2 separate regions of the Homo sapiens genome follow, and region 1 is linked to region 2. The links come from fine-mapping of genetic effects on gene expression. A gene starts in region 2. The other region holds a variant in brackets. All regions are shown on one strand. Distances are from middle to middle.

Region 1 (4,400 bases), 140 kb before region 2:
GAAACTGTTACAGATCAGAAGAGACTAAGGAGACATAACAACTCAGTGCAATATGGTATCCTGGATAGAATCCTTTAACAGAAAAGCACATTAGTGGGAAAACTGGTGAAATCTGAATAATGTCTGTAGTTTAGTTAACAGTAATACCCCAATGTTAATTTTTTAATTTTCACAAGTGTATCATGATTAATGTAAGATGTTAACAAAATTGGGTAAAGGGCACTTGGGAACGCTCCACTATCTCAGCAACTTTTCTGTAATCTAAAATTATTCCAAAATTAAAAGGTTGATTGCTGGGTGCGGTGGCTCACGCCTGTAATCCCAACACTTTGGAAGGCCGAGGTGGGTGGATCACCTGAGGTCAGGAGTTCAAGACCAACCTAACCAACATGGAGAAACCCCATCTCTACTAAAAATACAGAATTAGCCGGGCATTGTGGTGCACGCCTGTAATCCCAGCTACTCGGGAGGCTGAGGCAGGAGAATTGCTTGAACCTGGGAGGTGGATGTTTCGGTGAGCTGAGATCGTGCCACTGCACTCCAGCCTGGGCAACAAGAGTGAAACTCCGTCTCAAACAAACAAACAAAAAAAGTTGACTTAAAAAAGAAAGAAAGGGCCAGGCACAGTAGCTCACACCTGTAATACCAGCACTTTGGAAGGCTGAGGCCAAAGGATCACTTGAGGCCAGGAGTTTGAGACCTGGACAACATGGCAAGACCCTTCTCTACAAAAAATAAAAAAATTAACTGGGCATGGTGGTGTACACCTGCAGTCCTATGCTACTCTGGAGGCCAAGGTGGGAGGATCACTTGAACTCAGGATTTCGGGCTTACAATGAGCTATGATCATGCCACTGCACTCCAGCCTGAGTGACAGAGTGAGACCCTGACTCTAAAAGGAAGGAAGGAATGCAGGGAGGGAGGAAGGAAGGAAAAAAAGATGGAGAGAGGGAGGGAAGGAAGGAAGGAAGGAGGGAGGGAGAGATGGAGAGAGGGAGGGAAGGAAGGAAGGAAGGAAGGAAGGAAGGAAGGAAGGAAGGAAGGAAAGAAAGAAAGAAAGATATCCTAAAACACGCATAAATATACATACAGATACAATGTATATTGGTGGCTCAAGCCTGTAATCCCAGCACTTTGGAAGACTAAGGCAGGTGGATCACCTGAGGTCAGGAGTTCAAGACCAGCCTGGCCAAAATGGTGAAACCCCCGTCTCTACTAAAAATACAAAAATTAGCCAGGCGTGATGGCGGCTGCCTATAATCCCAGCTACTCAGAAGGCTGAGGCAGGAGAATTGCTTGAACCTGGGAGGCAGAGGTTGCAGCGAGCAGAGGTTGTGCCACTGCCCTCCAGCCTGGGCAGTAGGGCAAGACTTTGTCTCAAATAATAATAATAATAATAATAAATATACATATGCATACAATTTTATATAAATGGGATTTATACAATACATGCTGCCTTTTGCCTTTTCAACAATATATAATGGAAATTGGCCAGCTGCAGTGGCTCATGCCTGTAATCCCAGATACTTTGGGAGGCCAAGGTGGAAGGATCACTTGAGGCCAGGAGTTCAAGACTAGCCTGGCCAAAATGGTGAAACCCTGTCTCTACTAAAAATACAAAAATTAGCTGGGTGTGGTGGCATGTACCTGTAGTCCTAGCTACTTGGGAGGCTGAGGTGAGAGGATTGCCTGGGAGGCTGAGGTTGCAGTGAGCCAAGATCACGCCACTGCAATCCAGCCTGAATGACAGAGGGAGACCCTGTCTCACAAAACAACCAAAAAAAGGTGTGAACTGTGTAACTTTGCAGATTATTGGTATTTATTCTAAGGAATACATGAAACAATTATGCATATATGTGTATATATGTGTGTGTGTGTATGTATATATGTATATATATGTATATATATATACATATATATGTATATATATATATACATATATATGTGTATATATATGTATATATGTATATATATGTATATATATGTACATATATGTATATATATACACA[C/CAT]ATATATATATATTCACCTAGAGAGAGAAATACACTTATAGCCTTATTTGTAATTATATTGAAAATTTGGAAATAACTAACATTAGGTCATTGGACATTGGATATTTCCAAATTTGGAGTTGGATACGTAAATGGAATATTATACAGCCATTATAAGTAATAAAGTAGATCTGTTGACATGGATACTTAGATGAAAACAGAAAAGCAGATTATAAAATATATAATTCTGTCTTGATCAGAAAAATTAGAAATAAATAGCATTACCAGCCTGAGCAACATAGGGAGACCCCCATCTCTACAAAAACTAAAAATATACAAAATTAGCTGAGTGCAGTGGTGTGTGCCTGGAGTCTCATATACTTGGAAGGCTGAGGTGGGAGAATTGCTTGAGCCCAGGAGGTCAAGGCTGCAGTAAGCTGTGATCATGCCACTGCACTCCACCCTGGGCAACACAGAGCAAGACCTTGTCCCAAAACAAACAAAACAAAACAATCTTTTAGAAATAAACAGCATTAGAGTATATACATTATGTGTCCAATGTGAATATTTTTATATACCTGTGATTTAAATTTTTGTATCTTCATATGTGGTCTAATTTTTTTTAACAATCTATATATATGTTGTTAACTTGTCTTTATTTTTAAAGCGTAGTATTAAAACATTTATTTAAAGAAATAGGGGGCTGGGCTTGGTGGCTCACGCCTGTAATCTCAGCACTTTGGGAGGCCGAGGCGGGCGGATCACGAGGTCAGGAGATCAAGACCATCCTGGCTAACACGGTGAAACCCCATCTCTACTAAAAATACAAAAATTAGCCAGGCGCAATGGCAGGTGCCTGTAATCCCAGCTACTCAGGAGGCTGAGGCAGGAGAATTGCTTGAACCTGGGCAGCAGAGGTTGCAGCGAGCCGAGATTGCATCACTGCACTATAGCCTGAGTGACAGAGAGAGACTGCATCTCAAAAAAAAAAAAAAAAATGCATGCAACTTGTTAGAAAAGACACTATTTTATGTTTGGGAAAAATACTGAATATGAGTTTGTTTTTAATTGAACTGGCCCTTTTTGTTCTTAAAGCCAACACATTCCAAAATATATTTATTGACATTTACTCAAATCAGTATTTACCATCAATAAGTAAATCCATCCAGCAGGGATAGAGGAATAATATGTGATTTCTGATCTCAACTTAATATTTTTATTAAAATTTATGCAAATATATATTACTTGCAAGTTAATTAAGGCATTAAAATCATAGGAAACTTCTCTTGGCCAGTAAGACTAGGACAGAAATTCCAAAGTAGTTCCCACAAACCTAATCCAGTTGAAGCAATCACTGAAATGCATGACTTAAAATATCCGTAGTCCATACATGCAAAGTAGGAAAAGTACCTCTGTTACAGCACTTTTGTATGGAAGTCAGTTTTCTTGGGTTGCTATGAGAACCACCTGCAGACCATGTAATAATATTGAATATATGGCCAGGTGTGGTGGCTCACGCCTGTAATCCCAGCACTTTGGGAGGCCAAGGCGGGTGGATCACCTGAGGTCAGGAGTTTGAGACCAGTCTGACTAACATGGTGAAACCCCATCTCTACTAAATACAAAAATTAGCCAGGCGTGGTGGCGGGCACCTGTAATTCCAGCTACTTGGGAGGCTGAGGCAGGAGAATTGCTTGAACCAGGGAGGTGGAGGTTGCAGTGAGCTGAGATTGTGCCACGGCACTCCGGCCTGGGTGACAAGACTCCGTCTCAAAAAAAAAAAACAAAAAAGGAAAAACAAACAAGCAAAAACCCCTGAATATGTGGCTGTATTCATTAATTTAGTGGTCTAGGTAGACCCAGAAAATTAAGTCTGATTTAAAGAACAACTCAGGGCAGGTCTTGTTCACCTGACCTTCTTCTGCACGCTTCCTGAATTGCAGTAATTGTGGCTCTCAGGAGTTACACATTGGGAGTTTACAACACAGCCTGGGCTCGGCTGTGTCTTCTGTAAACAGTGCTTGTCCAAAGTAAAGCTTCCTTATAACCACACAATTTTAAATGGGTGTTTTAAAGTGAACAAAAAAGAAAAAAACATGCTCCTTCTCTGCTTAACCCAGTTGTCGTCTACTATGTAGATTTTGTTCACATTGCATGAAACCAGTGTTTTCCCAGGCAAGCAAGCAATGTGTTCATCCATTTTACGGTTTAATTAGAAAGAAATTACATTCCATATAACCAGTTAACTGGTTATTACCTTTTTTTTTTTTGAGACAAGTTTCACTTTTTCCTTTCTTCCTTCCTTCCTTCTTTCCTTCCCACCCTCCCTTTTTCATTTCTTTTTTTTTTTCTTTCTTTCCTTTTTATTTTTTGACTGGGACTACGGGCATGCACCACCACGCCCGGCTAATT
Region 2 (4,400 bases):
TACAAAATTGATAAGGTTATCAGAGCAGAATGGTAGACTTATTCTCTAGTAACAACTATTTATTGATAACACACCAATTTCCCATACATATAAAAGTTCCAAACTACCTCTTCTCATCAGATTCTATTAAAGAGAAATAAGACTAAGTATACATTACTTTGAGCACAACTGAAAAATTCAGTTTGATAAACTACATTAGCGTACTTAGAATACACGTATGCTACAATAGCTGTAATTAGATAAAAGCTGAGTTTTAATTTTACTGATCCAGCTACCAATATACTTTCACTATTCAATTCCCATCTCAAAAGCATACTTTCCTACTTAGTACAAACCCAATATTATAAACACAAAAGACAAAGATTTGCCCAATAAGTCGTTATCTAATTGTTATCAAGACTTGTTATTTGCATTTCAAAACCTGTAAGAATACCTTAAAATGATCCCTAAAATATTAAGCAACCTAATAATTCACACAATAAATCATCTCATCAGGCTTTAGTTATTACAGGCATTTAAATTATTTACTACAGCAAGAGTCCTCACCAATCAGAACTGTTTGAAATTTTCTCTTCTGAAATCTGCTATTACTTAACGAGTTTCAAATTTTGAGCCATTTATTTCTAGATATAAAGGTTAATAAGAAACATTTCTGCATCAAATGCACATAACTTCACAGTAAAGTCTTTTTTCCTCTCTTAGGAAACCAGATTCTCATTTTCTCTCTTATTTTACCAAATTATCAAAGAATACACAATGTGGCTTGGATTTCAGTACTGAAGACAAGTGACAATACATGGTTGACAGAATGAAAAACTAAAGTTTCACAATTTTAACAGGTAAAATATCTAGGTTGTGATAATGGGCTGAGCCCATAACATTAGCATTCCTTTCAAGATCCAATTCTTAAACCACCTGAATATTTCTGGCCAATGAACCAAATTAGGGGCTTAAAACATCGTGTCTCAAAGTTCACCATATGCTATTTCTCAAAGAAAACGTTACCTAGGAAAGAAGGAAGAACTTACATTTGGAGCATGACCTGGTTCAAGAATACCCCATCCACCAAAGCCACATATTCATCAAGGTTGGTCCCATTTCCTGCGGCCAGAGGTCCAAACGTTTTAACCTAGAACAAACAGAAGGATCACCACGACATGAACGCCCACCTCCATCTCTGCAGCCACAAATAACTCAGCAAAATATACAATAAAGGACACCCCACTTACCCAAGTGACCAAAGGGCTGGTCATGAACTGCTCCAGAAGGGGAGTAAAAATTTCGTTCTCCATTTTACAGAGTATGTATTTGAAAAAAGGAACTACCACAAAAATACGCCTAGGGAATTGGTCACTAAACGTGGAAGTAAGTAGAAATCAATGAAAGTCCATTTCGGCAAGGGAGAAAAATCCCATCGTGGAGGAGGGGGGCACTCTCCCTCCTCAAAAAACACCCCAGAGTGAAACGAGCCGAAATCCCAAGAAGTGGCTTCGACGACGGACACCACGAGCAGCAGCCTGCGCTGGAAATGTCTGTACCGGGCGAGGAGGGGCAGAGAAAAGGCATCTGGAGGAGGAGGAAGGGAAAGGGGGCTGGAACCCAAGACAAAAAGCCCGTCAAGGTTGTCCAGCTCCTGGAGGATCCAGACCAGCGAAACTGCTCCCAATGAATCAATCCCAACGGGGGCTAAATGAAATACGTTAAACAGAGACCACGTTAAGGATACCGAGGCGCCACCAGACTCGACCTCGGCGTTCCGACCTCTACACGTTCCACCCACCGATGGGCATGGAGCCGCTTTCGACCCGCGGAGCCTCCACTGCCCGCAGCCCCTCAGTACCAACAGGCAGGGCTCGCCCCTTCCCCCCGAGCAGACACCATTCCTCCGCCGCCCTCAAGCCTCGCCTCCAGCCCCCTTCCCCTCCCGGGGGTGGGGGCTTGAATGTGTGTCCCTAACCCCCCAGCTTCCTAAGCCCTGCCAGCCTTTCAGCGCGTCTCTGGGAATCCCTGGCACAAAATCACCGCCGCGCTCCAGCCTTCTCCGCCCTCTATGGAGAAGCCGGAGTAACGGCCTCAGAACCGCAGTGCCGCATCACACCCCACCCCTCGCCGCCCGCCAGCGCCGCCCGCCAATGCCGGGGGCCGCCGTCAAAGGGAGCGCGCTGCTCCCTCCGCGCCGATATCCTTCCGCCGACTCCCCGCCCCTCCCGTGCAGCTGCCTCTGGATTGTGGGAGAAGAAAACCGCTGCATGAGCGCGCTCCCGAGCGAGCGCGCCCCCGGGCTAGCCTCGCCGCCGCCCAGATCCTGGCGGCGGGCGCGGGCTCGGGCGTGGGCGCGCGCTCGCTGCAGCTGCTGCGGAGACAACCCGCTCCTCGGTTGCGCCCAGGACGGTTGCCTGGTGGGCGGGGACAGGGAAGGCAGAGCAAGGGGTCTGTCTGCTCGCTCGCTCATGCCTAATTATGGTTTATTTCCTCCCCGAGTGACTTCTTTGATACGTGAAGGAAGGGGAAAGAAATCCTTCTCTTATAAACATGAGGGATGCAGACAGCCTTTTTCGGACAGTTTGATGTGTTCTGTAAAGCATGCCTTCTCCCCAGCAAAATGGAATAGGAAAACTCACTGCAGCAAATGGCAGAGGGACTTGAGCCACAACTTGGTGGGGGTTTTTTTCTCCTTTTTGTTTTCTTCCAAATGCAGTCCACTAACGCATGAATGTTCTTCAAAGTTGCAAGTGACATACAGTAAGATTTTTTAAAAACCAGAGCTGTCTGTCAGCACGTTGGTATTCCCTGACTGGAGCAAACATGACTCAGACATTGTTTTTTGGTTTTGTTTTGTTTTTTACTATTTGGGCATGGGTCGGGGGAAACCCAAGCAAAATCAAGAGCTACAAAGAAGAAACATTTAGAAGTCATCCAAGTTGGGTGACAAATAAACAGATTACATATTTGTCATAAATCTCCATGCCACGTACGACTGGGACCTTGAAATAATTTTAAGTTCCCTGGCAAAATCAAATGCTACTCCTCATTTCAAAGGAAAATAAAGACCTTTTTCCCGGGGTAAAATGGGCATATAGAACGCAATCTTTTTTTGATAAAAGATAATATTATAGTTTTATAATGTGTGCTATGTTTACATTACATAAATATTTACACGGAGTATATATTTTAAATTAGCAGTAAAAATGTTTTTGTCATAACACAGTTAAGAAAGAGCAGAATTTCTTAATTGGGTAGTTGAGAACCTGGACTCTGAAGTCTTCCTGCCTGGTTCCAATATGCACCAGCTGTGTGAGCCTACGCACGTTATTGAGTCTCTTTGTGCTTCGATTCCGTCACGTGTAAAGCAGGGCTAATAATAGGGTTAAATGAAATGGCAGCTTATAGTTAAGTGTTCTATAAATGTCATTAATGTTGTTTTTAACATTATTCCTTCAAAATAAAGAACCTTTATGAAAAACTTGAAATATAACCTCTCTGCTTCAGTTACAGGAGAAAGGATCTTGCTTTGAGGAGGGAACTAAATGCCCTTTGAAAATCATCTTAATTAAAATTAGGATGCATTCATGTGGCACTTTGCTAGGTGATGTACAAGTAGAACCTTGCATTTCCCTAGCCAGTACACAAGCCTTCAGACATCCTTGTTGCTAGCAATCTTTTCCATCTGCTCTTGATGACTTTTTAAAAAGCCTTTTAGAGATGGGAGTCTCACTGTGTTGCCCAGCCTGGCCTCAAACTCCTGGCCTCAAGTGACCCTCTCACCTCAGCCTCCCTAGCAGTTGAGACGAGACGTGTGAGCCACCACGCCTGGCTTGGTGACTCCTTCTTTTTTTGTTTGTTTTGTTTTCTGAGACAGAGTCTCTATTACCCAGGCTGGAGTGCAGTGGCACGATCTCAGCTCACTGCAACCTCTACCTCCAGGGTCCAAGCGATTATCCTGCCTCAGCCTCCCAAGTAACTGGGATTACAGGCACCCGCCACCACCCACTGGCTAATTTTTCTATTTTTAGTAGGGACGGGGTTTCACCACGTTGGCCAGGCTGGTCTCGAACTCCTGACCTCAAGTGATCCACCGCCTCGGCCTCCCTAAGGGCTGGAATTACAGGTGAGAGCCACCGCGCTTGGCCTGATAACTCTTTCTTAATAGCAGTTCTTTATTTGGCAAATGAAATACAGACAGAAGGAGAGTGGGCACCAAGGAGACAGCATTGCTTTCAGGAGCAGCCCAGTGCTTGACATACCCACTTTTCTTTGTAATCCCCCAGACGCTTGACAAAACAATATGGAAGTAATTATGCCTATACTGGGTTTATCCTAGGACAAATCAATCTGCTTCATTCATAGGCGAAAAACCAAAAAGTATTAACACCAAATACAGCAGGTTAGGGGCATTTTGA

The links. PIP is the estimated chance that this variant, and not a neighbour inherited with it, causes the effect.
Region 1: its variant is fine-mapped to the expression of CCDC88A in whole blood (INTERVAL, PIP 0.99).

The regions. Positions count from the first base shown.
Region 1 is chr2:55,273,545-55,277,944 of GRCh38, forward strand. No RefSeq gene overlaps it. Among named protein-coding and RNA genes, the nearest start is that of MTIF2, 6.5 kb to the left of the region's middle. The variant C/CAT (reference allele first, on the strand shown) is at 2,010.
Region 2 is chr2:55,417,788-55,422,187 of GRCh38, forward strand. It overlaps CCDC88A (coiled-coil domain containing 88A), which reads right to left and starts at 2,069. Exons shown (of 33, transcript NM_001365480.1): 1 at 1,230-2,069; 2 at 1,029-1,129. The coding sequence starts at 1,292. RefSeq lists silencers at 1,970-2,039, 2,070-2,119, 2,180-2,469.